2 linked regions of the Homo sapiens genome follow. The protein of the gene in region 1 interacts with the protein of each later gene in a pairwise test. Each region holds a gene or a part of one and is shown on either strand. Other genes may lie near its edges. The genes, in order: TACO1 and CIB4.

The links.
Region 2: the proteins of TACO1 (region 1) and CIB4 interact in binary tests that used the Homo sapiens proteins (3 or more experiments, as listed by UniProt).

What each region holds. Positions count from the first base shown.
Region 1 is NC_000017.11:63,590,768-63,606,731, forward strand, and holds the start of TACO1 (translational activator of cytochrome c oxidase 1), read left to right. Parts: upstream 1-10,127; 5' UTR 10,128-10,316; coding exon 10,317-10,596; intron 10,597-13,766; coding exon 13,767-13,873; intron 13,874-15,545; coding exon 15,546-15,673; intron 15,674-15,964. UniProt on the Homo sapiens protein: Acts as a translational activator of mitochondrially-encoded cytochrome c oxidase 1.
Region 2 is NC_000002.12:26,626,989-26,642,195, reverse strand, and holds the start of CIB4 (calcium and integrin-binding family member 4), read left to right. Parts: upstream 1-829; 5' UTR 830-881; coding exon 882-935; intron 936-1,572; coding exon of another isoform or gene 1,573-1,628; coding exon 1,629-1,663; intron 1,664-3,556; exon of another isoform or gene 3,557-4,536; coding exon of another isoform or gene 4,537-4,556; intron 4,557-12,689; coding exon 12,690-12,786; intron 12,787-15,207.

The sequences.
Region 1 (15,964 bases):
TCCTCTTTGGTTCTCACCTGCTTGAGAAGTAAAACAGTAACTTTGTTCTTCTGGGCCCTTAAGCTTTTTTGGTTAAGTCTTCCTTTTCAGAAGTAGATGTCATTATATGCCAAAAGTCTAGCTCTTTGCTTTACCATACAGGGACCTGTCCCAAAGAAAAAGGCTCTTTTTTTAGCCAGCATATTTCCCCTTCTACCCTTTTACTTTGTTGTTCTGATTTTAGGACTCTGGCTGGCCATGTGCTTGTGGTTGCCTCTCCTGCATTTGCCACTGGATTTGCACTGCATCGTTTGGAGATACAAAGCGAGCAGTTCTTGGTCAGAACCCTCCTCTGCTTTTCATTGTGTTTGATAATGGTTACTGGGTCCTTCTCTCAAGGGTAGCAAGGCCAAGCTGATGGCTGCTTGTTTAGGAGGCCATCAGTTCCTTCCTGTGGAGAAGGGTCTGAAATGGAAGTCAGTGGTAGAAGGGGCTGGTCTGCTGGGCAGGGCTTACATCCACTGAGTTCTAAGATTCCTTTCCTGATCTGCACCTACGCCTGGTCTGTATGGTGGAATTTGTCAGCTGGAACTCAGAAACAACAACTTGAAAAAAAAATAATAATTAGAACATATTTGCATAAGATAGCTATTTACTCTGGAAACCAACAACTTTTGAGATTTCCCTTGCCCTGTGGACGCCCAGCTCCTGTCATCCTTCCTTAGGTCCTGCAGTACAGTCTTCCCCTGAATGCCACCGGGGACCCAGGGGGACTCCACCCCCCTAAGCAAGCACACACATACTCACAGTTGATGAGTTGCTGGTCTTTGAGTCCCAGCTCTCTTACCCTCCCTTTACTCCACCAGCCCGACGACCCATGACTGAGGAGGGGATTTCTACAGTCTCAGGATTTAGAAAGTCTGTAAGCCATCCATGCTCCAGAAAGCACCGATCTGTTGTAGTTGCAAAAACAACTCTGTAATTTGTTGAGGTTCTCAAACTGACAGCCAGCGAGACTGGGTGGGAGGCCCTGGATCTGTTCTCCCTGACTGCGGGAGGAGCAGCCACTAGGACTTTAGCAGGAAGCCCACATGGAGGCTCCGCCAGGCTGTGGCCCAGCTGGTGATGGCCCTTTTGCTCCTGGCAGCCTGAGGCACAGCTGCCTGTATTGTCCTCATCTGTTCTGACTGAAGGATGGAGGTGCTGAATAAATTAGGCCTCAGGCCTCTACCACCAGAGAGCTGGAGAATGGGTCCACGTCATTCAAGGACCTGAATTTTTTATGCTCAGGAGCATTGGAATCCTCTTCTTCCAGGGAGGAATTAGCCTGCAAGGTTAGGACTTGAAGAGGGAAGGTATTTAATAACTGGGCGAGGATGGGTGTGGTGGCTCACACCTGTAATCCCAGCATTTTGGGAGGCTGAGGTGGCCAGATCCCAAGGTCAGAAGATCGAGACCATCCTGGCTAACATGGTGAAACCCCATCTCTACTAAAAATACAAAAAAAAATTAGCCGGGGGTGGTGGCGGGTACCTGTAGTCCTAGCTACTTGGGAGGCTGAGGCAGGAGAATGGCGTGAACCTGGGAGGTGGAGCTTGCAGTGAGCCAAGATCGTGCCACTGCACTCCAGCCTGGGCGACAGAGCAAGACTCCGTCTCAAAAAATAAAAAAAAAAAAAAAATAGGTGAAAATTCCTTATAAATCCAGGATTGGCTCTGAGAGAACTGGCTAAGATTCAGGAAGAAACAAAAAATTCAGAATCCTACAAGGTTTTGATGACAATTAGGGCCAAAATTTTAGGAGGAGATGTAGGATGCAGGAGAAAATTAAAGTGTTTTCTTTATATCAGAGGAGGAAATAGTAGAGGTCAGTGAAGGTCTGGGGTAGGGAAACATTCAGACTGTCCATTGCATGGCTGTGGAGTGAGACTGCCCTTAGCCTGGGTCAGCCTTCCTGGGCCATAAATTGGGCATCCGTGATGCTAGGTAACTGTGGGAACAAAATGACAGCTTAGAGCAGCCATGGGTGATGTTTGGTGGTAAAAAACCTACAGGCGTTTGGGGTCCCATGATTGTTCCAGACCATGACTCTTCCTGGTTGTGGGTTTGTTACAGAGCAGGAGAAGCAGAGGTTATGACAGTTATGCAGACTTTCCCCCTCCTTTTTCTCTTTTCTCTTCCCCTTGCTTTTCCACTGTTTCTTCCTGCTGCCACCTGGGCCTTGAATTCCTGGGCTGTGAAGACATGTAGCAGCTGCAGGGTTTACCACACGTGGGAGGGCAGCCCAGTACTGTCCCTCTGCCTTCCCCACTTTGAGAATATGGCAGCCCCTTTCATTCCTGGCTTGGGGTAGGGGAGACCATTGAAGTAGAAGCCTCAAAGCAGACTTTTCCCTTTACTGTGTGTACTCCAGGACGAAGAAGGAAGATCATGCTTGATACTTAGATTGGTTTTCCCAGGGAAGAGGGCGGAGCAGAGCAAAGTCACTGTGAACCCTGGGCCAGGCCCTGGCTGGGCCAGCTCCTGAGAGCGTCTCGTGTTGCAGACCCTTGCCCACTTCACCCACCTGCACCTTCTCCCCCTCTCACAGTGTCACTGCTGCTAATGGTCAAAGTCAAATGTGTGGCCACATGGGATGGGCCAGGTCCTCTCAGGCTACTTTCTGGATGTCATTTTTAAAATATGGAAACATGCAGGTGCCTTCCCAAAGAGGCTTGGACTGGTATATCCAACGAGAAACAAATAAGCTAAAGAAAGTTTAAACTCAAGAAGAAAGATGTTGACAGTCTATGTAACAGCTGGAAAGTTTATAGGCACCCACCTTTGGGACAACCCAGTGATTATGAACATGTGATATCTACTATTTAAAAGAAATGTTCTCACCTTGGGTTGATTGTGGTATACCATGTGTTATGAAAATTGTTGAGCTGAAGCTTTGAATCGATTTAGTTGAGTCTGACTCACTTGCTTTGGTTCCTGTGTATTTTACTACCCCTCTTGTCAGTGACCTTCCTTCCCCACCCCACCCAGAGTGAATTTGTAGCATGATTGTATAAACCTCTATGTAGAAAATGGAGATTTCTTGCTCTGAAATGTTAAGCTCTAACTGATCCATTTCTGTGTCCTTTAGCCTAGTATGTCTGAACTTCCATTCTTGTTATATATTTAAACTTTCCCTCTATATTATAGGTTTTGTGGCATCCACGGTCAGGTGTAGAGGAAGCTGCCCCTTGCAGAACTGTACTGTAATATTTTTCTTTTATAAATATTTTCACAGGACTGATTGTACACAGGGCTTGTAATAAAATTTTAACACTGTGCTGTGAAACAACTATGGGGAATCTCCATTGAAGGCTACTTCATGGGCACCTGAAAGTGGAGTGTTATAGCTATGACTTTCTATTTCTTGTTTCCTAAGTAAATTAAACCTAATTTTCACCCTTTCATTCTGTTTCAGCCTCCTGTATAAGAAGTACCGTATTTTCTGCCCATCATACTTTGTAATAAAACTTGAACATGTATAGATTGACTGAATTTCTTTTTGTGACGAATTCAGTTCTTCCCATTTTGTCACTTTGGTCATGTTCCATAGACAGTGGCAGTGCCCCAGCCCGAGCCGGGCAGTCTACTCATCACCTTTTATATCCTATTTAGTCATTCACTTGTTAATTCAGTGGAGCACCTCCTCTATGCCAGGGGACATGGCCCTCAAGTTGGTTGCAGTCTACCAGAGGAGACATCTACATAAATACTTGTGGCCGGGCACAGTGGTCTGTGATCCCAGCTGAGGCATGGGGGTGGCTGAGGTGGGAGGATCACTTGAGGCCAGGAGTTCAAGACCAGCCTTGGCAACATAGCAAGACCCTGTCTCAATCAATCAGTCATTTTTATTAAAAAAAAAAAAAATTTCTTTTAGCCAGACTAAGATCTAAGACAAATCTTTTTTTTTGCATTTCTTTTTTCTTTTTTTGAGACGGGGTCTCGCTCTGTCACCCAGGCTGGAGTGCAATGGCGCGATCTCGGCTCACTGCAACCTCCACCTCCCGGTTCAAGCTATTCTCCTGCCTCAGCCTCCTGAGTAGCTGAGATTACAGGCATGTGCCACAACACCCGACTGATTTTTGTATTGTTAGTAAAGACGGGGTTTCACCGTGTTGGTCAGGTTGGTCTCGAACTCCTGACCTTGTGATACGCCTGCCTCAGCTTCCCAAAGTGTTGGGATTACAGGTGTGAGCCACCGCACCTGGCATTTATTTTATTTTAATAGTTTTGGGGGAACAAGTGGTTTTTGGTTATGTGGATAATAAGTTTTTTTAATGATGATTTCTGAGATTTTGGTGCACCCATCACCGGAGCAGTGTACACTGTACCCAATTGGTAGTCTTTTATCCCTACCCCCTCCCACCCAAATTTTTAAAAGACAAAAAACAAAAAAACCAAATAACTTGCATTGTTGTGCGATAATGGATGTGTTTAGGCATCACCCCTCAGGAGGAGGTGATCACCTCTGCCTGTGTGGGAGCCACATGGGGTCAGCGAAAACTACTTAAGATGGATGCCTAAGCTGGGTTTTGAAGGCTGAGTAGGAGTTATCTGGAAATAGGGAATGTCCTTTAAGGCAGAGAGAACACCCATGTGCAAATCTATGGAGGCAAGAAAGTATGGTCATATTTAGAGAATTGCAGGTTGAGGTGGGGTGAATAGTGGGAAATGTAGCTAGAGATGTATACAGGAGCCAGGGCAGGGAAAGTCTCCCGCTTTGCAGAAATTTTAGACATTACACTTCTGTATGATCCTGGAAAACATACACAGAGAGGAGTCATCAGAATTGCATTTTAGAAGGATAGGCAATGAAAAAGTGCCTCTTCCTTCTTATAGGGTGAGAGAAAAACCCTGAACTAAGGCGGCGGCGGCAGCAGCAGCCACGGCAAGGATGGAGAGGACAGGGCACAAGTAAAGAGGGATGCAGTCATCAGCATTTAGTAATTTATTGATTGTGAAGGAGGACAGAGAAATAACTCCCAGATCTTTTGGATTTGGACAGGTTCTGATGGCTGACTAGGAATGTCCAAGTCCCTGCTAATTTCCCAAACCTATGCCCCACACGGTAGGGTGGGGGAGTTCCTATCCCACTGCTCTTCAAATGCTGTGTGTCCTGGATGAAATACTACCCCCATTTATTTATATTTTTATTCTTCATGTTGGGCCACTGTGAAGGAAGAGAAGAAAGGCAAACTGATTGGTTCCGTGAACCTGTATTCGGTAAGTACCTGCCATTGTGTCAGCTGATATGGAGCCGGTGGCAGTGGATCTGTGAAGGGAAGTATGTGCTCTTGAGAATTTAATTTTTTTTTTTTTTCAGACAGAATTTCGCTCTTGTTGCCCAGGCTGGAGTGCAATGGCGCGATCTCGGCTCATCGCAACCTCCGTCTCCCGGGTTCAAGCGATTCTCTTGTCTCAGCCTCCTGAGTAGCTGGGACTACAGGCATGTGCCACCACGCCTGGCTAATTTTATATTTTTAGTAGAGATGGGGTTTCATCATGTTGGTCAGGCTGGTCTCAAACTCCCGACCTCAGATGATCCACCCACCTCGGCCTCCCAAAGTGCTGGGATTACAGGCGTGAGCCACCGTGCCTGGCAGAGAATTTAAGTTTTATGAGTACCTGCTGGTCCTTTGGAACTGTGCTGCTATATGGTCTGACAATGTATATTTTGTGAGAAACACATGAGTCCTGCTCTCTGGTTTTTAAGGAGAAAACAGAGAGTAATACTATTTATAGGCTAGCCTATGCTGCGGCAACAAACCCCCAAATCTCAGAAACTGAGCACTACAAAAGCTTATTTTTTGCTTACACAAAGTCCTCTGGGCCGGGTGCAGTGGCTCAACTCTCTAATCCCAGCACTTTGGAAGGCTGAGGGGGGAGGGAGGGGCAGATAGCTTGAGGTCAGGAGTTCGAGACCAGCCTGGCCAACATGGTGAAACCCTATCTCTACTAAAAATACAAAAATTAGCTAGGCATGGTGGCACACGCCTGTTGTCCCAGCTACTTGGGAAGCTGAGGCAGGAGAATAGCTTGAACCCGGGAGGTGGAGGTTGCAGTGAGCCAAGATCGCACCACTGCACTTCAGCCTGGGCAACAGAGCAAGACTCCATCTCAAAAAATAAAAATAAACGTGTGACCTCCAGGTTGCTTATGGGGGGTGGGAGGGAGTACATTTTTCAGGATGGGCCGGGAAGTGGCTTACTCACTTTTGCTCCTATCTGCCAACTGCAAGGAAGGTCAAGTCAAGAAATGTAGTCTTCCTGTGTACCCTGGAAAAGGAAGTGAAGTAGTGAATAATTATGTCTCAGCCATACTAGCAAATCGGCTAAGTATCTGGACTAATAACTAATGTAATCTCATTCATTGAGAGCTGTTAGTACTGGACAACACATGGTCAAACCTAATGGAATGATATTTGTAGCCAGTCTTTAGCTTCCAAGGCTCATTGTTACTTAAGTGATTTCAGTGAGCCTGACAGCCAGGCGTCTAGAGATGGTTCAGTCAACTATGAATTTATCTTGAAAGGTGGCTATTAACTCAGACTGAGAGTTAAAATCTGCCCTGCCATTCATCACAGATGCACAGACAGATAAAACCAGCTGCACAGTTAACAGGATATAGTACCTCTATCAAGAACACACTGCAATTTTTTTTTCTTTTTTTGGCAACATAAAGTGTCAAAACTCCCTGAGTGACTACTGTTTTAAAAAAATTCACTGAGAAATTTCGTTCTCCAAAATCATAGGCTGACAAAGTTTGCTGTTTGCAATTGTATTTGTGAGAATTAAGGCTTATAGTCAGTCTTGCTTGGAGGAGCTGAGTCACTCTGACAGAGAAGCAGCCTTGATTTCCAGGCCAGGTATTGTGCTTCAGAGCAGGGGCTTCTGAACACAACAGTCCACATTTACCTTGACTTTGTACTTTCCAGGGAAACTGATCCCCTGGGTCCACTTGGTAGTCCAGCTGATCTTAATCCGCCTTTCACACAGGTCTGTGTTTCTTTGAGCCTAACTCTAATTTTTCACCTAACTTCCACCCTTCCCCATAATTCTATGACCAGTTTTTTCTTCGGTAAGACACTTCACCATTCCTCTGGTGTGCAGTCTCCCTTGTTGCAGTGAGTTGATAAGCCTAACTCTGTGAGACTATAGGTTTCCCTTGCTGGTCTCAGGCTGACTGGACTAGGGCAGTCTCAAACCTTGTTTTAGCCTCTACACTTATTTGTGATTACAAATTCCATTAATTTGATTTTTGCTTCTCAAAGTAAATATTACATATATATTTTTTTCTTTTTTTTTGAGATGGAGTCTCGCTCTGTCACCAAGGCTCAAGTGCAGTGGCGCGATCTCGGCTCACTGCAACCTCCGCCTCCTGGGTTCAAGCGATTCTCCTGCCTCAGCCTCCTGAGTAGCTGGGACTACAGGCGCGTGCCACCACACCTAGCTAATTTTTTGTATTATTAGTAGAGACGGGGTTTCACCGTGTTAGCCAAGATGGTCTCGATCTCCTGACCTCATTATCTGCCCCAAATCGGCCTTCCAAAGTGCTGGGATTACAGGTGTGAGCCACCATGCCTGGCCTGAATAAACTATTTTTAAATTGCAAAAAGTAATACTATATATGAATGGCTGATAAGCACATGAAAAGATGCTTACCATTAGTAGTCATTCAGGAAATACAATCAAAACCACAATGAGATAATACTTCTCACCCACAAGGATGGTGATAACTATAGTCAAAAAGAATAACAAATTTAGCCAGTGGCTCACACCTGTAATCTCATCTACTTGGGAGACTGAGATGGGAAGATCACTTGAGCCCAGGAGTTCTATGCTGCAGTCAGCTATGATTGCTCCACTGGACTCTAGCCTGGGTAACAAAGCAAAAAAAAAAAAAAAAAATTCATGATATGGAGAAATTAAACCCTCATATATTGCTGGTGGGAATGTAAAATGATACAACCACTTTAGAAGACAGTCTGGCAATCCCACAAAAGGTTAAACATAGTTATGATATGACCCAGCAATTCCACTCCTAGGTATATAACTAAAAGAAGTGAAAACATAGGTCCACACAGCAATGTGTACATGAATGTTCACAGCCTCATTATTCATCATAGAAGGTGGAAACAACCACATGTCCATTGCCTGATGAACAGATAAATAAAACGTGGTATATTCATACAATGGAATATTATTTGGCAATAGAAATGAAATACTGATACATGCTACAACATGCAAGAATCCTGAAAACATCATGCTAAGTGAAAGAAGCCAGTTACCAAAGGCCACATAGTGTGTGGGCCCATTCATATTAAATGTCCAGAAGAGGCAAACCCACAGAGACAGAAGTAAATTGGTGATTGCCTAGGGCTGTGGGAATTGGGGGGAAATAGGGAATGATTGCTAATGGGTACAGGACTTCTTTTGGGGATGATGAAAATGTAAAATCAATTGTGCACAGCTCTGAATATTCTATAACACATTGTACACTTTGAATTGGTGATCTGTGTGATCTGTGAAATATGTCAAAACTTAATTTTTTAAAAAATGAGAACTGTGTTGGGCATAGGAAGTACAGTCCTACTCTCAGAGAATTTAGTATTACGGTAGAAACAGATATAAACATTTTGATATTTTTTTAAAAGGTAAGTGCTAAGGTGCAAGCATGTATGAAGGGCTATGGGCACCCACCGCACCTGGCTAATTTTTGTATTTTTAGTAGAGACGGGGTTTCACCATGTTGACCAGGCTGGTCTTGAACTCCTGACCTCAAGTGATCTGCCAGCCTCGGCCTCCCAAAGTGCTAGGATTACAGGCGTGAGCCACCGCACCCAGCCCCATGGAGGTTCTTATATAATAAAAAATAAAAAATCTATGCTTTTGTGCTTTGCATCCATTATCCCATTTAGTCCTCACAAGGCCATTCTATGGTAAGGAAACTGAAACAGGAAAGTAAAGGAACTTGCCCAAGGATACACTAGAAAATGGAACAACCAGGGTTTGAAGCCACCCAGTCTAACTGCAGAGGGCACAAACTTGGACTTCACACTGTCCTGCTTCTCTCTCTCTCTCTCTCTCTTTTTTTTTTTTTTTTTTGAGTTGGATTCTCGCTCTGTCGCACAGGCTGGAGTGCAGTGGCGCGATCTCGGCTCACTGCAACCTCCTCTTCCCGGGTTCAAGCGATTCTCCTGCCTCATCCTTCTGAGTAGCTGGCATTACAGGCGCGCGCCACCACGGCCGGCTAATTTTTTTGTATTTTTAGTAGAGACGGGGTTTCACCATGTTGGTCAGACTGGTCTGGCACTCCTGACCTAGCGATCCGTCTGCCTCAGCCTCCCAAAGTGCTGGGATTACAGGCGTGAGCCACCGCGCCCGGCTGTCCTGCTTCTCTACCTGATATGTCATGCCCTTTGGACTTAATCTCACCAGCATGGGAGTCACTACAAAGCTTTTCAGCAGCTGCCGCTTTGTTTCTCTCCATCTTCTAACGGATTCGGTTTTCTCTTTCGAGACAGCAGAGAGAAAATGAAGAGGGGAGTTTAGCTCCAAAGGGCTTGTCTGATCATTCTCCCTCTCCCAAAGGCCTGTGACTCATCTGAGTCTGTCCCAAACCATCTCTTGCATCTAGGGGCTTAAGTGCACTGTGGCTATTTACATAAAACTTTATTACTTTAAAGCTCTAAGGGCTCATTTTGTGTTTCTAACTTTCCTATGTTGATAAAGCAAATATTAGATCCTTATTTATAAATAGGGAAGACGTTCAGAGAGATTAAACATTTGGGCAATTCACTTCTCTGGCAGCAGTTTCTTTCCCAGTACAATGAGGCAACAACAAAATATCATTCTGGACTTGCTCAGATTTAGGCAGCAATTTGGAAGCAAAGTCAGTTTCATAACTCAGATGTGTCTCCACTAAAACATTATGAGAAACAAAGTCCGGCGCTCTCTAGGCAACCGTGAGGGCTTGAGCACTAACTAGATCTGCTCAAGGGCAAGAGAGGAGCGAGTACCGTGCAGCCACGGAACGGACTTTGCGGGCAGTGGGGACGTGTTTTTGGAGCGAACCCGGTAAAGGAAGTGTGCTACGCCATCAAGGGCCCCCAGTCCCGGGTGCCGCGGGGACAGTGTAGGGTCATTAGCTGTTGAGCCGCCCCGGGCGGGCCCAAGCCTTTGGATCTCAGGTGACCGGCACAGGCGGCCGCGGGGTCCGGAACTGCTTGTTCCGGCAGTGGAAGAGACGCGCCGGCGTTGGCCGCTGCTGCTAGCAGCTTGAACCCCAGGGTCGGGACCGATGTCGGCTTGGGCTGCTGCCAGCCTAAGCAGGGCCGCTGCCCGATGCTTGCTGGCACGAGGCCCCGGGGTCAGGGCGGCTCCTCCGCGCGACCCCCGGCCCTCCCACCCCGAGCCCCGGGGCTGCGGTGCCGCTCCGGGCAGGACGCTGCACTTTACCGCGGCTGTCCCCGCCGGGCACAACAAGTGGTCCAAAGTCAGGCACATCAAGGGTCCGAAGGACGTCGAAAGGAGTCGCATCTTCTCCAAACTCTGTTTGAACATCCGCCTGGCAGTGAAAGGTGAGACCCTGACGGTCACCCAGCACTGGCTGCCGCTGCCCTCTCAGTGCCCGCAGCCTCGCTTGCCTCTCGGAATTGGGCCCACCTAGATCTCCGGCCCTTCACTTTGTTTTCCTTCCCCAGTACCCACCATTGCCCACCTCATAAATCCTCAAAACACCTACCCTACGTTGGAGGTTCTCACTCACTTTTCCAGACGCTGAGCATCTGGCCAGTTTGTCAGAGAGGGAGCTGCTCTTAAGAAGATAAGCCGGTAAGGTAGAAGTGACTTCATCCTAATCTAGCTGGGTACTTAATAGAAACAAGCCCTAAGAGTCAGGGCAGATGTGTGTCTCTCCTGAAGAGACAAATCAACCCCTCTGAAGTCGCCTCAAGTACCTTATTGGTTGTGGCAGGGGCACTGAGTAAAGCTATTACTTAAGTGCTTAGGCCTTAGCTTAGGCCTTAGTTTGCTTCATTAATGTTTCCCCAAGACACATTTCCTTGGAAGGTAGATTTGCAGCCATGTCTTTTCTCCCTTAGGTCGCCACACTGAAAAGGCTTTTTTTCTGTTTAGGGCCAGACATCTGTAGGAGCAAAGGAAAAGTCCTGTAGAAAGCATGGACTTTGGACTGGGCGCAGTGGCACAGCCTGTAATCCCAGGCCAGAGGCAGGCAGATCACTTGAGGTCAGGAGTTCAGGACTAGCCTGGCCAACATGGGGAAACCCTGTGTCTACTAAAAATAACAAAAAAAAAAAAAAAAAAAAACAGCTGGGCATGGTGGTGCATGCCTGTAATGCTGGCTACTCGGGAGGCTGAAGCAGGAGAATTGCTTGAACCCAGGAGTTGAAGGCTGCAGTAAGCGAGATTGCTCTACTGTACTCCATCCAGCCTGGGTGACAGAGCAAGACTCCATCTCAAAAAAAAAAAAAAAAAAAGAGAGAGAAACTGTGGACTTTGGAGTCAGGAAGACTGGTTTCTGTCACTGACTAACCTTGAACAAGTAGCTTAACTTGAGTTTCTCTGAAACAAGGATAATACCCACCTTGAGGTAGTTTATGGTTTATGGCACATCATAGGCATTCAGTTAATGTTAATTTACCCCCTCAGCTCATGCCTGGTATTTGTTTGCTTCCTTTTCTTCAAAATTCTTGATATTAAGTTCAAGCAACTTTTATTTATTTATTTATTTATTTATTTTGAGACAGAGTCTCACTCTGTCACCCAGGGTAGAGTGCAGTGGCGTGATCTTGGCCCATTGCAACCTCCACCTCCCAGGCTCAAGTGATTCTCCTGCTTTAGCCTCCGGAGTAGCTGGGACTACAAGTGTGCACCACCATGCCTGGCTAAATTTTTTTGTATTTTTAATAGAGACAGGGTTTCACCATGTTGGCCAGGCTGGTCTCGAACTCCTGACCTCAAATGATCTACCCACCTCCACCTCCCAAAGTGCTGGGATTGCAGGTATCAGCCACTGCATCCCAATGAAGTTCAACCAACTTGTGTTTATTTTGTGCCAGGCATGCCATTGGTACTAGAAAGATGATGAGATACAGCCCCTACCCTCAGATCACAATGTCATGTGAACATTTCAATAATTATGCACAAAGTGCTGGGCACGGTGGCTCACACCTGTAATCTCAACACTTTGGGAGGCTGAGGCCGGCGGATCACGAGGTCAGATCGAGACCATCCTGGCTAACACGGTGAAACCCCGTCTCTACTAAAAATACAAAAAAATTAGCCAGGCGTGGTGGTGGCGGGCGCCTATAGTCCCAGCTACTCAGGAGGCTGAGGCAGGAGAATGGCGTGAACCCAGAAGGCGGCGCTTGCAGTGAGCCGAGATTACACCACTGCACTCCAGCCTGGGCAACAGAGGAAAACTCTGTCTCAAAAAATAATAATAAAAATAAAATAAAATAAAAATAATTATTATGCACAAAGTAGTAGAGTAAGAGCAGTAATGAGTCCAGGAAGTGTTGTTACCATCTATAACCCTTCTTCATCTGACACAAAGTAGAGATCGCTGAAACCTAGCAGAATGAAAACCATCCCTAAAGACAATGAATTAGAAAGTTCTGGCCAGGCACGGTGCCTCATGCCTGTAACCCCAGCACTTTGGAAGGCCAAGGTGAGTGGATCACTTGAGGTCAGGAGTTCGAGACCAACCTGGCCAACGTGGTGAAACCTCATCTCTACTAAAAATACAAAAATTAGCTGGGCATGGTGGCAGACACCTGTAATCCCAGCTACTTAGGAGGCTGAGGCAGGAGAATCCCTTGAACCCGGGAGTGGGAGGTTGCATTGAGCCAAGATGAGCCAAGATCATGCCACTGCACTCCAGCATGGATGACAGAGTGAGACTCTGTCTCAAAAAAAAGGTCTTTTCTGGCCAGACATGGTGGCCCACACCTGTAATCCCGGCACTTTGGGAGGCCGAGTCAGGCAGATCACTTGAGCTCAGGAGTTTGAGACCAGCCTGGGCGACATGGTGAAAACCTGAATCTACAAAAAATACGAAAAAAATTACCTGGGTGTGGTGGTGCACACCAGTGGTCCCAGCTACTTGGGAGGCTGAGGCAGGAGGATCGCTTGAACCCTGGAGGTTGAGGCTACAGTGAGCTAAAATCATGCCACTGCACTCCAGCCTGGGTGACAAAGTGAGACTTTGTCTCAAAAAAAAAAAAAGTACTTTTCCAAAATACTTATCCAGGCCAGGGGCAGTGGCTCACACTTGTAATCCCAGCACTTTCGGAGGCCAAGGTGTGTGGATCACCTGAGGTCAGGAGTTCGAGACCAGCCTGGCCAACATGGCGAAACCTGGTCTCTACTAAAAATACAAAAATTAGCCGGGTGTGGTGGTGTGCACCTGTAATCCCAGCTACTCAGGAGGCTGAGGCAGGAGAATCACTTGAACCCAGGAGGTGGATGTTGCAGTGAGCCAAGATCGTGCCACTGCACTCCAGCCAGCAACAGAGTGAGACTCCATCTCAAAAAACAAACCAAAAAAACCCGAAAATACTTCTCCGTATCCCACTGAAACACTAGTTAAGGTATTCTAAGGTAACTGAGAGCTAAATGGTGATTTGCCACTCCTTTGGCTTGGTGGGGCTGGAAATCCCTTTTATTCTCCCATGTTGTAATGAGATGTCTTTGCTCACTCTTTTTTTTCTTTTTCTTTAAATCTCAGAAGGAGGCCCCAACCCTGAGCACAACAGCAACCTGGCCAATATCTTAGAGGTGTGTCGCAGCAAACATATGCCCAAGTCAACGATTGAGACAGCACTGAAAATGGAGGTGTGTACTGTTTGACATGCTTTTTATTGATCACAGCCTCTACCGGGCTCATGTCTGGATGGCCAACAAACACACTGTAAATTATCAGAGGGGCCAAGTGCAGTGGCTCACGACTATAATCCCAGCACTTTGGGAGGCTAAGGTGGGTGGATCACTTGAGGCCAGGAGTTTGGAGACCAGCCTGGCCAGCATGGTGAAACTCCATCTCTACTAAAAATACAAAAATTAGCTGGGCGTGGTGGCATATGCTTGTAATCCCAGCTACTGGGGAGGCTGAGGTGGAGGATCGCTTGAACCCAGGAGGTAGAGATTGCGGTGAGCCGAGATTGCACCACTGCACTCCAGCCTGGGCGACAGAGCGAGACTCTGTCTCAAAAAAAAAAAAAAAAATTATCAGAGAGAACGGTAGCAATGTAGTTGACGCCCTCAGCCTAGAGTCTTCTGAGAGCTCACCGTCCTTGGTCATTGGTTCTAGGAGCACAACTGGGAGTAGGATGCATAGGCAGTATGCAGGGCCATACAGTCAAGACCGGGACTGCTCAGCCAAGTTGTAGGGAGATGAGGTATTATAGAAAGAAGGGGCAGTGTGGGAGAAAGCCCTTACGTTAGGTGGAGGAAGTGTTTGTTTTTCAGATGTTTATGCCCTAAAGGAGAAAAGCCAGTAGAAAGGGAGAGGATGGGGGTGATAGAGATGGTGGGAGGGGCAGGTATATAGAGTCCACGTAAGGGTACACCTTTCTCTGGGGCAGGTAGGGAGGCTCTGAGGAAGTAATAGTTATCTTAATAGCTCAAAATTATTGAGTGCTTCCTGCAGGCTAAGCATGGATAAAAACTCTATGTGTGTTATCTCATCGAATCCTCAAAACCACCGTAAGTAGAAACTGAGGCACAGGAATGTTAGGTGAGTTGACTCAAGTCGCATAGAAAATGACAGACTTGAAACCAGATAGTCAGACTTTAGAGCCTGTGCTCTAACCGTTATGCTTATTGCCTTCATGTAGGCCATGGTGCAGAGAAGGTGGTGGAGACAGCAACTATTTTCCCCACCTAGTGGCCCTTTTTACCTTTGTGAAAGAGGAAGGGAGAAGTTATGAGTTGAGAATTCCTGGAAAGTTGCAGGACAGGGTGCTTGGAGTGGGGAATATTGAATACATGGACAAGGGATGAGTAGGGGCATGGAAGGTCCAGAAGAGATTAGTCCCTAGAGCTCTGGATTAATTGTTTCAATTTTGAGACCATGCTGTTTTCAGCAGCTCTTACGACAAGGCCTAGGTGTGTGATATTTCACAGCAGTACTCAGCAGCCCAGGGTAGGGACCTTGAGACTTGACCGGTGGGTTTCTTACAGGATGGGGGTGTAGGAGGATGAGTCTGAGTGGGATTGGGTAGGGACTAGATGTGGCATTTGGTTAGGGATGGTAGGAAGCAAAGCTGAGAGATGGCTGATGGATTGTTCAGGGACCGGAGAAACAGACTCCTTCCAAGTTAGGGGTAGTACTTCCTGTTACCTCAAAAGTTGGTTAGAGGGTGGGGACAAAAATAAAGATTGAGAGCTCAGGCTCCAGCCTAGAGAGCCCATCCCATGGAGTTAGTTTTGCGATACTTGTAGTTCTGGGCTGACATGTGGGAAGGAATTGGGAAACAGGAAAATGTGCTTGTGTTGTTTATTGCAGAAATCCAAGGACACTTATTTGCTGTATGAGGGTCGAGGCCCTGGTGGCTCTTCTCTGCTCATCGAGGCATTATCTAACAGTAGCCACAAGTGCCAAGCAGACATTAGACATATCCTGAATAAGAATGGGTAAGTGTGCGTCTGGGAGGAGTGGTAGGGGACAGAGCCTTTATGTTCCAATTCTCTGCAAGGCAAGTACTGTTGATCTCTGCTAGTGTTTCAGGGTTTTGTTTTTTGTTTTTTTGTTTTTTGAGACGGAGTCTCACTCTTGTCGCCCAGGCTGGAGTGCAATGGCATGATCTTGGCTCACTGCAACCTCTGCTTTCTGGGTTCAAGTGATTCTCCTGCCTCAGCCTCCTGAGTAGCTGGGATTAAAGATACCCACAGCCATGCCCAGCTAATTTTTGTATTTTTAGTAGA
Region 2 (15,207 bases), on another chromosome or scaffold:
AGCCATGAACTCCTGGGCTCAAACGATCCTCCTGCCTCAGCCTCCTGAGTAGCTGGGACTACAGGTGTGCTGGTGTGCACCTCTGCACCCAGCAGGTTGTAGGGTTTTTTTGTTTTTTTGAGACAGGGTCCTAGGCTGGAGTGCAGTGGTGCGATCTTGGCTCTCTGCAACCTCTACCTCCCAGGTTCAAGCGATTCTCCCATCGTAGCCTCTGGAGTCACTGGGACTACAGGTCATGCCACCATGCCAGCTAATTTTTGTATTTTTTGGTAGAGACAGGGTTTCTGCATGTTGGCCAGGCTGGTAGCAAACGCCTCACCTCAAGTGATCCACCAGACTTGGCCTCCCAAAGTATTGGGATTAGAGGCGTGAGCCACCATGCCCAGCTAGGTTGTGGTTCAAATAGCTAGCATTTATTGAGCACTTACTATGTGCCTGACATTATTCCCTGTATTCGTCAATCCTCACAACAATCCCATGATTATCATCCCCACTTACAGATGAGGAAACTAAGACACACAGATATTGAAGAGCTTGTCCCAGGTTACAATGGGGTGGATCTGGGATTGGAGCCCAGGCACTGTGACTCCTGAGCTGACAGTGTGACTCTCAGCCCCATCTTTGGACTGCCTTTCTGCTTGTTGTATGGGACTGATGCCTCTTAGCTTTGGGATTGAAAATAATTTGCTTCTTTGCTAACTCAGCAACTCAGGTGGAATGGGAATGAAAAGAATTTGTTTCTTTGCCAACTCAGTAACTCAGGTGGAATGGGCAGAAGGTGGAATGTAGGTCACCATGGCAACTGGATCAACGAGGTGCCTCAGCTGGCGAGTCCTTGAGGCTGAGGTTCTACTGCTGGCAGACAGAAAGGTGTGGTTGGCATGGGGCAATGCTTGAGGTATCAGATGCACTGGGAGGACCTGGAAGAGTACCAGGTGGGTAGATCGGGCTAGGGACTCTGGGCAGAGGTGGGAGCTTCCTAAAGCAGGTGGAATGAATGGGAAAATTCCTTCCTGACGCTCTAGCAGGGGTGTCCAATTTTTGGCTTCCCTGGGCCACATTGGAAGAAGAATTGTCTTGGGCCACACATAAAATACACTAACACTAATGCTTGCTGATGAGCTAATAAAAAAAAATCACGAAAAAATCTGATAATGTTTTAAGAAAGTTTACAAATATGTGTTGGGACCCCATTCAAAGCTGTCCTGGGCTGCATGTGGCCTGCAGGCCGTGGGTTGGACAAGCTTGCTCTAGAGTTTACCAGGCGGGGTAGCGGTGGTCCCTCTCTTTGCTAAATCTGCATCCATGTGGCCCAGATGAGATCTCTAAGGTTACCTTCCTCCATCTGTCTCCTGCACCAGAGCCCAGAGTTTCACTCTTGTCTCTGATCTGCTCTCCACATCTGTGCCAATGCCCTCCTTCCCAGGGCTGTAAGAGACTAGGGGGTAAGAAAGAGCACCATTTCCTCTCCTGCTGCCACCTCAGGCATCCACCTCAACCTGGGGTTCCCCCAGCTGTGCAGCAAAAGAATGGGCATTTCCTCCCCAGCCTCTGAATTGCGCCACTCCCCAGGGGCCACAGCAGGGATGAATGGAGTGGACACGTCGCTTCTCTGTGATTTGTTGCAGGCCCTGACCTTCCTGACCAGAAATGAAATTCTGTGGTGAGTAGAAGCCCCGCCCCTCTTTCCTTCTCCCAGCTCCTCCCTCTGAGCTGGATTCTTGCCCTAATACAGCCTCACGCTGGTCCCTGAGTGTGGTCCCTGCTCAGAGCCACACAGCCCTGGAGATGGGGCTGGGACACGGCAGGCAGGGATGGGAGGGCCCAGGGGCCACGATCCGCAGAGCCCCACTGGAGCTGAATGAGACACCAGGCTTTAGGCTGCTAACCTTTTACTGGGATCCAAAGTGAGGTTTCTTCAGAGGATCATGGAGCTGGACAGAACCTCTTTGGAATAATGAGGAGAACAAGGAAAGGACTTGGGGAACTTATGTCTGAAGCCCATTTTGGCTGTCCACTGGCTGGGTAAACTTGGATGCATGACTGAAGCCCAGACTTCCCTCTCCACCTCCCTCCCTCCCTCCCTCCCTCCCTGCCCTTTCTCCGGTGCCTGTGATGTGCTGGCCTCGTGGAGGCCCTGAGGGTGGGGTGGTGAGCAGCCCCGCTCCCTGTTGTCATGCGGACCGCTGTCCAGTGGGGAAGAAACTTCATTCAACGTGGAGGTGGCCAAATACCCTTCTCGTGGGGCTGTGGGGGAGAGTGAATAGTGTGAGAGGTGTGTGTGTGTTTGTGTGTTTGGGCCAAGCCAGGTGCCCAACAAAACCTGTTAGATGAATAAAGGAGCTCACCAAGACACTTTCAGGGGAAGGTGGGGGAAGGTTCCCTCTCATCATCTTTGCTTGGACTAACCCTCCCCAGTCACCACACGGAAGCCACATTTCCCACTCAGGGTCTGGTGGTGGCAGGTAACAACTTTGTCACAAGTGCAAGACTCTCCAGGCACAAATGAGGATGGGGGATGGCCAGGGCACGGGGAGCTAACCAGGGGCTGTCACCCAGTGACATTGTTTCCCTTTTGAAAATAATATTCACTCACTTTTTTAAATATAGAAAAATATGACATAACTCCAAATGACCCATATCCTACTACCCATATAACCTCTATTGAAATTTTCTGAAAAGTATCACATGAATAAAAATAAAATGAAATCTAAAAAAAAATGCTACCTGGCTAGAAAATTCAAAATTCAAATAATGGTTCTCAGTCATAAGTGGGAGTTGAACAATGAGAACACATGGACACAGGGAGGGGAACATCACACACTGGGGCCTGTTGGGGGGTGGGGGTCTAGGGGAGGGATAGCATGAAGAGAAATATCTAATGTAGATGACAGGTTGATGGGTGCAGCAAACCACCATGACATGTGTATACCTATGTAACAAACCTGCATGTTCTGCACATGTATCCCAGAACTTAAAATATAATTTAAAAAAAAAAAAAGAAAATTCAAATAGTGTAAAAGTTCTAAGTGAAAAGAAAATGTCTCCATTCTCTCCTCCCAGTCCTTTTCCCTCAAGGCCGCCTCTGCTCACTGTTGGTTTGTCTTACCATCTAGCCTTCTGGAAGAATTTTCCATACATAAGCCAACACATTTATCCTCCTTTTACCCCATTCACATGGTTGCATTTATCCCTTCATACTGTTCTGTACCTTTTTTTTTTTTAAGCTTTTGGGGTTTTTTTTGAGACAGAGTCTTGCTCTGTCTCCCAGGCTAGAGTGCAGTGGTGCAATCTTGGCTCACTGCAACCTGTGCCTCCCTGGTTTAAATAATTCTCTTGCCTCAGCCTCCTGAGTAGCTGGGACTACAGGTGCCTGCCACCACGCCCGGCAAATTTTTGTATTTCTGTAGAGATAGGGTTTCACCATGTTGGCCAGGCTGTTCTCAAACTCCTGACCTCCAGTGATCCTCCCACCTTGGCATCCCAAAGTGCTGGGATTACAGGGGTGAGCCACTGCACCCGGCCTACATTTTAGAACTTCGATGGGTGAGACAATGTTGTCCTTCAAAGGAGTTGCACCAGTTTGTACTCTCAGCAAGGGGGCATGGCCATGCCTGCCCCTCTTTCTAACCCAGGGGCTTCAAATGGCATTCATGGATCCACCCCTGGGGTTCCTCCTATATGCCAGGAGAGAGCATGGGGTGGTGGACGAGAGGAGTGAGAGGAGTATGGGAAGGGTTCAGGCTCTCTCTCGAACATCGATCCTCCATTTTCATTTGTTCTGCCTTGGCCTTCGGAGAAAGAGTTCCTTGGAAGCGAGCCATGCTTATGGACGCCTCCCTTCTGAACCTCCCACCCAGGACCTGAGACGACCTCCTCCCAGATCCTGTTTCCAGTCTGTTTCCATCCCTGTGGAAGGTGCCTTTCCCCGGAGAAGAGCACAGTTTGGCTCCGCGTTGTGTTGGGGAGGTGGGTCCCTGTGAGTGCTGCCAGGGAAGGCTCCAGTTCACAGTTCACGGTTCATGGTTCAGTGCAAACTTCTCTAACAAGCAGTTCTTAAAGCTCTTTCTGTCCTGCCCCTTCTCTTGAGAGACCCATTCCTGAGCATGAAGGGCCTGTGCCTGCCCCTGGGTAGCTCCTGCTCAGGAGGCTCCCACTCTCAAAGGCCGGCGTGCGTCAGCGCTGGGGGTGGTGGGGTTGGGGACGCCACTGCATAAGGAAGGCAGAGTAGAGGGCAAAGTATCCAACTCCTATTACTTGGACACCTTCAGATAAGACAGAGTGAGAAGCACTAGTGGGGCCAGGGACAGCAGTGCAGAAACTCTCAAATGGGAAGGTGATACCAGTGAGAGCCCTCTGCTGCTTTAAACCAAGGGGAGTCTCCAGACCCAGGAGACCACAGCCTGGGAAGCAGCTGAGAATGTGGAATAGCTGTCAAGAGCTTTGAAGAGTGGAAGAGGACCAGCGAAGGCAGGAGATGCTGAAATGTCCCAGTTCAAAATGAGAAGTACACCTTGACCCAGCCATTCCACTTGCATGAAGAGGACACAGGTGAAGTAAGTGCTGATTCATCCCTCTGTGGAAGACTGCCCTTAGAGAGGAGGGGAAGAGCTTTCTGTTTGATATAGAGCCATCTCCAAGGTATATTATTAAGTTAAGAAAGCAAAGTTCAGGGGGCTTCCAGTTACGTGGAGAATAGAGCATTTTCTTTGACCTCTGTTTACTAAAAGGAGAGTAAAGGAATTAAAAAAAACAAAAAGAAGAAGAAAGAAACCCATAAGGACAAAGAGAACACAAGCAATGACAGCAGATGAGAGAGGTCAACAAAAATTTTACAAGTGCAAAGCAGATAGACCCATGACGCAGACTTAGCTGAATAGAAAGTTGAAAGAATTTTGCCTGCAGGGGTTGGATGATGGAATCGAGAACGCAGAAAGGCTCAGGAACCTCCAAATGCCAGGATGCAGGATCAGGTGAAAACAGAAAGGCAGATTGAAAGTCTTATGTGATTCCTTCTCTCTCCCTCTGCAATCCACAATCAACTTGGCACCCCTGCCCTGCCCCAGCGGAAGACAGGAGCTAACCATCTGGGGAGAGCTGGAGCCAGACAGGCCCCTGACTCAGGGCCACCAGCATGATGAAGAGCAGGGTGAGCTTCTGGTCAGCATTTTAGAGCCTCCCTGTAAGTAGAAATCGAAAGCTAAGGGACACCAGGTATTTGAGGAAAGAATAAAAAACGGCCTACACACACTAAGTCATGCCATCATGACATTTCAGACTGGCAGAGATGATGAGAAGATCCTGAGTGCTTCCACGGAGAGCAAAACAGACTACAGAGAATCAGGAATGAGAATAGCTTTGGACTTATGTTGGAAGACAGTGGCTAAACACATTCAAAATTCTAAGGAAAAAATTTCAATCTAGAAATAAGTTCTAGCTAAGCCATTAATCAAGAGTCAGGGCAGGATAACAATACTTTTTGTCATGCAAATTAAAAAAATCATCTCTTATGGACCTTTTCATAGGAAGCTTTTGGGAGATGTGCTTCATTAAAACTAGCGAGTAAACCAAGAAAAAAGAAGACCCAGGATCGGGGAAACAAAGGCTTTCAACCTAGAGGCAAAACGAATTACAAGGAAGATAGTGAAGGGAAGCTGAAGGATGACAGCAGGACAGTCGGCCTGGAAAGCAATCAGTCCAGATTAGAATTAGGGAGTCAGGGGTTCCAAGAGTGGTGTCTCTAAGAGACAAAATGAATCTATCTAGATACCATATTGAGAGGTACTTATTTCTGCAGAAAGTTTGGAGATGAAATAAAGATAGGCACACAAAAACCAAGGCAAAAAACTGAAAGTGATTATTCATTCTGGGAAAAACAAAAAGACTTGCAGGAAAGAAGTAATCATGTTGCACTAGGGAACTCAGCTTGAGCAATGTTTGAATAATGCATATACGATATATAATATTATTATAAACACTGAATATTCATTCAGGAAAATTGTTTTATATTGGGAGGTTGGGGAAAGGAAAAGAAGTATATATAGAGAAATAAATCCTCTTTTTTTCTACTAAGAGGTCACAAGATAGTATCTATAGTGAAAACAACAGCAAAGGCAGTATTAGCACAGCATTTGGAAGTACCATGTAAATATTAAGCAAAAACAAAGTGAAATAGCAAAATGCTTGCAAACTGCTGCCTTTGGAGAGCAGGGTTAGAGAGGTGGTGTGGGGTATGGAGTATTTGTAACTTTGATTGTAAGCTTCACAGTATCACAGTACTATTTGCATTTTTAATCTATTTAACTGTATTACTTTGGCAAACAAGACCAGTACATACAGGCTGCTACTGCTCTTATGAAATAAAGGGCTGTTCATACATGCATACACAGAGGAGAATATCCCTGGAAGCAGACACAGAAACTGATAATAGGTTATCTTCTTGGTGGGGCCCTGGGGAGTGGAATATGTTAGGGTTGGTGTGGGCATGCTGTCTGTAAAGTGAGGGGACAGCTGTGATGTGGATGCCCAGCTTCTCTGGCTCAGGGAGCAGAAGGCATGTGATACTCACGGAGAAAGTGGCCATCCTGGGCTACCAAGGCCAAGTTGAGCCAGACGAAGCCCTGGTCACTTTTGAATGATTTTCCACTGTGGCCTCTGACAATGCCTTGTGATTTTCCTATTGGTGTCATAGAGAAATGTGGCCCAGATGGCAGTACAGTTGGATGGACTTAGCCAGTTAAAAAAGTATTCAAGAGACCGATAGGTAGAAGTAACCTTTGCAGGGAGGCTGGCTCTGTCCAATATTTTCCCACCTTTTAATCTGTGACTTGCATAAGGACACAAAGGCCTGGTCACCAGATCTGCAGATGACACCTCCTGGGGGCTGGTGGGGGGAGACCTCATGTTCTAGACTTGTCTTGGAGCCAGCACCTTCCCAGTCCAGGGCTGCTTTGGTTTGGCCCTCCAAGAAGAGGTCTGTTCACTCTAAGTTTCCAGCCTATGAGACTTTCCTTTCACATGTTTTTGATCTCAGCAAAAGCAAGGTCCCTTTCCGCCCTAGCATCGGGGCAGCATTGTCTGACTCTGTTTGAATTGGTTGTCCCAGAAGAAGCCTTTTCCCGAGATGCCTCTTCTGGGCCCAGGCCCTTCCGGCGGTGACTGCAGACCGTGCAGACCCTGCAGACCCAAAGAGGGCCCATGTGGCTTCCTGGGCAAGGCACAGCCTGACTCCAGCCCAGACCTCTATGTCTCAGGCGCAGGTCAGCCTGGCTCAGCCCGAGCTCTTCGGACTACTCTGCATTGCCTGGGATGGTTCCTGACACTCTCTTGGGTGGGGTGGGGTCTGGTTTAGGAGCCTGAAGCTTTGCTTCCAGCCTCTGCTCAGGCTGACCCAGCCATGGGGCCTTTCTTCCTAGAACCTCTGGAGGTTCCAACACTTTGTAGACTCCATGGCCCTGTCCTGGCCATTAACGGGCACCTCAAGGCCGCAGGTGGAGTGGTTACAGGTTTATTTCCTGGAAGCCAAAGACCTGGGTTTGAGGCTCAGCTCTGCCACTTAGTAGCTGTGCAAACACGGGGGAGTGTCTTACCCTCCCTGAGCATCAGTTTCCATCCTTATAAAATAGTTGAGGGAAATAGAACCTAATCTCACAAGGTTGTTATTAGGACAACCAGAAGATCAAATCTGTCATTGTTAGAGCAATACCTGGCACATGGGTCAGCACCGATTACGTGGCTGCTGTTACTATCATGGTATTATTATCCCTACTTTTTGCAAATGAGGAAATCAGCTCAAAGAAATGAAGTAATTTCCTCAAGCCCACACAGATTGCAAGTAGCAGATCAGGGAACTAAAAGCCACATTTTCAGGCTAAAGAAGGACCATTTAGAAAATATCTACTATCTGCAGGCAGTACTGTAGAGCAAAGGACTATTGACCCCGTGGGGTGGGGGTGAAGCCAGAAAGCTGGGACTTGAGGAGTGGGAATTCGGGTTTGTCATGTTCTTGATCTCTCTGGGGCAGTAGAAATACTGAGAAGCTTGTAGAACCTGTAGGTGCCTCGGGCTCTATCCTGGCCTTGAATGAGAACTTCAAGGGGTGGGGAGGGCAGATCCTTTTACAAACTCCCTACATGATTCTTACGTGGGACCCCGTTGAGAACTACTAAGCTAGAGGGTCTCAGAGGCAAGGGGGTAAATGGGATGCCAGAGAGAGGCACGAAAGACTAGAGTCATAGGATACCTAAACTGGAGGGAGCTGGGGGGATGCTGGGACTCTAATTTCACAGAAGGGAAACTGAGGCCCGAGAGGGGACTTGGCGAGTCCAAGGTCCCACGGACAGTCAGCAGCAGAGTGACCTCCACCCGTCTTAGGGCCAGCCCCTGAGCCCGCAGGCAGCCCCTCCTGCCTCTCTGGGCTGTGTGGAAGGGAGCCATGGCCCAGGCTGCTGGATTGCTGGCAGGCTGAATGTGTGAGTTTTTCAAATGGCTTTGACTTTTGAGTCCATTAGTGATTAATTCAGGGTTCCATTTAGAGCCAGCTGATCCATATTTGGAGGAGGAGAACATTTTATGGCAGCCGAGATGCAGCCACGATTCATCTATGGGCAGCCCGCCCACTCTGCAGCCTGGGAAGGCACCAACTCCAGGCAGGCACCCCACCAGCACCCTCCCCGAGAGGACTTTCCAGGGGGGTGACTCGAGTCTCTCACCTGGAAGAAGGGTGGGCCCTTTAGGGGTGGGCAGCACAGCCCGAAGAACTTGGTTTAGGGTTCAGCCCTCCACTCCGTCTCTTCCCAGCTGTATAACCTTAGATACAACACTTAAACTCTCGGAGCCTCAGTTTACCCATCTGTAGAAATGATGGCCCCTCCACTTCTCCCACAGAGAGTTGTTGGGAAAATTCAGTGAGATGATGTGTGTGAGTGCACCCGGCACAGAGGCTTTGTCATGAGAGGGTGGCAAGGGCTGGTGAGTTTCTTTTCTGCCCCTCAGCAGCCCCTGATGCCTCCTGGGGAACGAGCTTTGGTGTTTGTATCTCTGGCTTTAACATTTACCACTGTGTGACCTTAGGTAGATTATTTTACCTACTTGACTTTCAGTTTCCTCATCTGTAAAAGAAACAATGGTCCCTTCCTTGCAAGACTGGCATGAAACATGCAGAATGTCCGTGAGAGTTGGCTACACAGAGCAGGCACTCCCGGTGGTGCCCGTGGTGGGGGCAGGAGCCCGAGCTCACTTGTGCGTTGCCTTAGGGATTTAAAAAAAAACCAAAACATTAATTTTTGTTGAAAATTGCTCTTATTGAAAGTGGGTCTGTTCTTTATCACCTCAAGCCAGCAATTCTAACTATGACAGTGACAAAATGCTCCTTTTGACTGGAGCCGGCCACTCCCACTGCCCTTAACCCTTTCTTTCTTTTTCTTTTTTTTTTTTTTTGAGATGGAGTCTCACTCTGTCGCCCAAGCTGGCGTGCAATGGCGCAATCTCAGCTCACTGGAAGCTCTACCTCCCGAGTTCAAGCGATTCTCCTGCCTCAGCCTCTGGAGTAGCTAGGATTATGGATGCGCGCCACCATGCTGGGCTAATTTTTTATATTTTTGGTAGAGTTGGTGTTTCACCATGTTGGCCAGGCTGCTCTCGAACTCCTGACCTCCAGTGATCCGCCTGCCTCAGCCTCCCATAGTGCTGGGATTACAGGCAGGAGCCACTGCACCCGGCCTACCCCTCGCCCCTTGTAGGCCACTGGACACTTCAGCAGTGATGGCTTTTCTTCCTGCTTGTTGACCTGTGGTTCCCAGCATCCACCCCAGTACTTTCCTGGAGAATCTCTCCCCCAACCCGTTCCACACTCTGCTTTCTGCTCCCTCCCAAACGTGTGCAGTCTCTAGACCCTAGTGACAGCTCAGGCCCCTTCCGTGGCCAAGGCGGCAGTCATGGTGCTCTCCATGAACACCACACGCCACTCCAGCTCCCATCTGTCAGGCCCTAGCCTGGATCTGCACAATGCCACTGGAAGGAGGCTGGCTCTCCATCAGACAGAGTCAGGATATGAACCTGGGCCTGCGTGCTCAGAGAGGTCCGGCAGTTTGCCTTGGGTCTCGTAGCTAGAGGTAGAGAAATAGGATCCAGATAGATCCAGATAGGTCTGTGAGCAACCCGGCGGGAAGCAGGTGGCACACTCAGCAGGATCTTTGAAGGTGCTTTGCAGTGAAGGAACTGTTCAGAAGGAGGCCCAGGGAAGCACCCAGGGGCCAGCCCTGACTGCCCCAGGCCTGAGGTGATAGCTGAGAGCTGGAGCTGCAGAAGCTGGCTGCTAGCCTGAGACAGCGGGAACACAGACACTGCAGAGTCGTGTGGGGCTGGGAGGGAGAGGAGGATAAATCCCCACCCATCCCTCATACCTCCAGTCCTCCTGGAGCTTCCCTTAAGCCAGAGGGAAAGGGAGGTGGGAACACTGTCAGTAGAGATCAGCCTCCCAGGGCACAGAGTGCAGTGGGCACACAGAATCCCAGCATAGTTTCTTTCCACTCTCCCAGGGCTGGGAGCTGAAGGATGTTTTTCTAGTCAGTGAGATGTGAAACAGTGAGTGGCTGGCAGGGTGCGAGGCCTCCACCTACCATCGTCAGGGCTCTGGGAGAGCCTCCTGCTTCCTGCTCTACCTCTGAGTCTCCACTCCTAAAATCACCCTCCAAATTCTTCACCTAGTTTTTGTTGTTTATTGAGACGGGGTCTTGCTCTGTCGCCCAGGCTGGAGTGCAGTAGTGCGATCACAGCTCGCTGCAGCCTCAACCTCCTGGGATCCAGTGATCCTCCCACTTCAGCCTCCTGAATAGCTAGACTATAGGTGCGTGCCAGTATGCCTGGCTAATTTTCAATTTTTTTGTAGAAATGGGGTCTCCCTGTATTGCCTAGGGTGGTCTCAAACTCTTGGGCTCAAGCGATTCTCCCGCCTCAGCCTCCTGAAGGGCTGGGATTACTGGTATGAGCCGCCGCACCCGGTCTTCACTTAGTTACATGTCCCTAAATTCCACCAATCAGAGCCTCATTTGAGTCAACAAACCACATACCCTGGAATGTCAATAGGGGACTGTTAGTCACTCACTCCTGCATACAGACTCCTTTCATGGGATTGCTGGCCTCTCAGGAGAGTAGAGGTTTGATGGAAGACAGGAGAGGAACAGGAAAGGACTAAAGGAGGGAGGGGTAATTTTGGAGCATGGAGGGGACCATGAAGAGAGGGGAGAGCAGGTCTGGGTCAGGGTGGTGGGCTCCCACTCTCACAGTCTAGGTGTGGGTTGTGCACAGCCCAGGAGCACAGGGGCACCTGGAGTATAGGAGAGAAACACAGAGAGAGGGCAGGCTGGGTGTCCCCTCTGAGGCCCCGGGTAACACAAACACTCTTACCTACCAAACACTGCGCTGACGTTTCATACACCTCCCCTCATTTAATCCTCACGAGTGTGTGGGGGGAGATTTACTACCCCACTGCAAAGAGGAGCAGACTGAGGCTCAGGTGGATTCAGAACCTTGCTCGACGCCTCAGAACTATTAAGTGGCAGAGTCAGGATTTGAATGTAGATCTGTCCGGCTCTAGAGACAGTGTTTTCAACCAGCCTGTGGTGACCCCACCACCCGCCATCCACCATTTATACATAAACACACATACCCTTCAGCCTCCTTCACACTGAACCCCCGCCACAGCCCTCCAAGAGACATATCATTCTTGTCCCTTATCCAGATGATGAAACTAAAGTTCAGAAATGTCAAGTGAGTTGCCCGAGGTCACACAGCCCTGCCACAGCAGTTCAGGTTCTGGGATCCAGGCCTCCTGGGCCCCAGGGCACCACTGTCTCACCTCCACTGGCTGCCTTGGGTGCTGGACCTGTAGGCCTAAGAGCTTGCTGGTGGACAGGGACCCAGGTTCAGGATAGGGTGAGAGAGACAGGCAATGAGGGCTCATCCTCTCTTAGCCTGAGGCAGAGCTCCCTCCCGCCCTCTTACTCTCAGGGGTCACACGGCCATTTCACCCTCTGCCTGTAGCTTATAAGCAAAATCCTCTTGACTGGGATGGGATCCTATAGACAAGAGACATCGCTGACAGGGATGATTAGGAAGACCAGTCAGTCCACGATCTGCTGCAACCAAGTTTGCTGTCAAGTGGCCTAGCAAGGCTGGTGGTTTGCTGGCTGCAGGCAGCCGGGCTCTAATCCCGGCTCACTCAGACCCACGAAGTGACCTCTTTTCTTGGGTTGAGGATGGAAATTGGCAGATGGCCAGAGGTGGGGACCCTGGCTTCCCCAAGGTCCTACTGGCTTCCCCATCCGTAACCGAGGGACTGGACATAAGCCCCTTCAGTTCTGACATTCTATGATGAACCCTCGTAGAGTGTGCTGCTCGCTACAGGGCATATTCGCCTAACTTTCCTCTCACCTGGCTCATCTCTGCATCCTCTATGGTGTGCCTGGCACACTGGAGGGTCCAGGGATGTTTCTAGAAGACATATTTATTACTGCGCTTTATTATTATTGATTACTGCCTTTTCTGTGTCAGCCAACCCCAAGTCTCCTTCCTCAAAGAGACACCCCCACCCCTTGCAGCAGGAGACAGGCTTGCTGGCCTCCTTTCCCCGGCCACACAGTGCTGGCCTCCTTTCCCCGGCCACACGGTCTTCATGCCTCTCTTTTCAGCATCCATGACACCTTCCTGAAGCTCTGCCCTCCTGGGAAGTACTACAAGGAGGCAACGCTCACCATGGACCAGGTCAGCTCCCTGCCAGCTCTGCGGGTGAGTCCAGGATGGTGGGTGGGGCAAGGGCAGCATCAGTGGGACCTGCTGATGGGCTGATGGGTGCTGGGAGGGGTGGGGTGAGGTGGGCACTCCGTGCTGTGGGATGGTCACCTCACTCCAAGGGGCTCCTGATCCTCCAGGCAGAGGAGTGCAAGGACATGGCTCCCAAACACTTCCTGCATGCATCTGGCCTCCCTCCATCCTCACCTCGGTCCTAGAGCAGGACCCTGTGATAACAGTCACTACTTCTCAGGTGGGGCCAGGGGCAGATGGGGCATGAGACCTGCTCCAGGCCTTACCGTGGGAGGTGGCGGCCCCATCTGGAGGTGCTCACTGGCCCTGCTGCTCAGCCTCCGAGGCCAGCCTATGGGTCTTTAGATGGGCTTCAGCTTGCAGTCCACCCCACTCTGTTTGCTCATTCCTTACTTAACCCTCACCCCAGTGACCCCACACCAGCCAGTTTCCTCTGCTGTCTGTTGTGCCCCAAACTAGGGCAAGTGACCCTAGGCCAGGATCCCCTGCAGGACCATTAGGCCTTGAGGAAGCCAGGGTGCCACCCTAGCCATCGGCCCAGTCCCTCAGCCCTTCTCTTCTCCTCAGGCTGCCTCAATGGACTGGGGCTTTTCTAGAGGGACTGAGAATTTTCTCAGGTTCTTCTCTGAGAAGACAGGAGGAGCAGGGCTCGGGGCCCAGAGACTGTCCTCCCAACCTGCCTTTTTCCCAGCTCCAGGAGTGGCTGCAGGAAAGAAGGGTGCTTGCATTTCTGCTCTTGCAATCCTCTCTCTCCTCAACTCGCCCTCAATTCAGCCAGCGCTGCCTGGGCTGGAGGCTCCTGTTACACAGAAGGCTGGTTGAATGCTCATTCCCTCCCAGTTTCCACAACTTGTCCTGGGCTGAATCTCACCTTCCAACCACCTAGAACACACTCCCACCCCCCACAAACACACACCCTTGCTGTGGATGGGTCCTTGGCAAACCTTCCCTGGTCTTGGTTTCCTCACCTGTAAAATGGGTAGAGCAGTGGGGGGAGGCTGGGAGTGACCATGTGCACTCTAAGACTCCTGGCCCCACAGGCAGTGCTAGCCTGAGCTGTCCCTGCTCCCCCCACCTCCCAATCCTTTAGGGACAATTATCTGAGCCTTTATCCCTGTTATGAAGAGGCCCTGCCCTTCCCCCAGGGCAGCCTGGAAGAGCCTAGAGGCACACAATAAAGGACTCCAAAATCACTCCTGAGATTTTAATTAAAATTTGTGCATTGCATTGAGAGGAAATGTCACGTTAACAAATCATGGCTACGTCAGGCTTCTCTATTTTTCATTCGGTTCTTGGCAGAATAATGACTTCAGTTTGTCATTGTTCAATGAGAGCCCATCTTCGTTTCTGTTTGGAACGAACTGGGCTCTGAGAACTGTGGCCACCACTTGGAAGAGGCCTGGGGATACCAGGGAGGAGGAGGCTGGCTCCTGAGGAAGGGACATGGAGGGGGCACAGACATGTCATTCAAGCCACGGCTGCACGGCCCCTCCTAAGTGACAGGCCTATCTGTAGGGCAGACAGAGACAGAGGAAAATGCACAAAGCTGGGTCTTGAAATAGAGGCAGGAGTGGAGAAGACAAAATAATGAGAAAGGGTGAGGGGTGGGTAGGTGGGTGGGGGTAGCTGGGAGAAGCTGGGATTCTGGAGGGGAAAGAAATAGAAACCTCAGAAAGGTGAGTGAATCGGAGACTGTGACTGTGACAGAAACAAAATGGGGAGGCGGTCTTCCTGGCACCCCCCACTTCCTGGCCTCACCCTCATACAGTCACACCCCATGTGTACACGTGCATGGGCTCCACCACATGTGGGTGGGACTTCTCTCAAACCCAGGCCATCCACTAAGGGACCCGGGGTCAGGGCCAGCCAGACAGGCAGGGCTGATGGGAAGCTTCTGCCCTCCCCTGGGTGGGTGCAGGGTCACTGGTCAGTCCCAGACTCTCTGAATGCTACGACTGGAAAGAAACTTAGAGACCACCCAGTCTAGTCACTGTCAAATGCTCCTCACCCTGATTTTATTAATGGGGAAACTGAGGTCCCAAGAGGGAAACAACTTCCAAGGGGCCACATGATGGAAGAGTCTGGACTAGTTCCTGCTCTGGGGGAGTCAGCTTGAACTCTGGCCCAGGCAGAGCCTCCTATTCTAATCAAGGCTTGGCTGAGCAGTGACCATGTGCCTGGGTCTTCCAGGTGCCACAGAGGGCCCAAGGGGAGCCGAACTGGAGGGGTGGCATAGAGGGTGTTGGTGACCCATGGCCTCAACACATCCTTCTCCAGCAATAGCCTTGTCTCAGTAGGGCCTGGAGTCTCTGTTTGGCCCCCAAAGGAGTAAGCACTGGACTAAGATCAGGAGGGCTGAGTCTGGGCCTGGAGCTATCACACTCC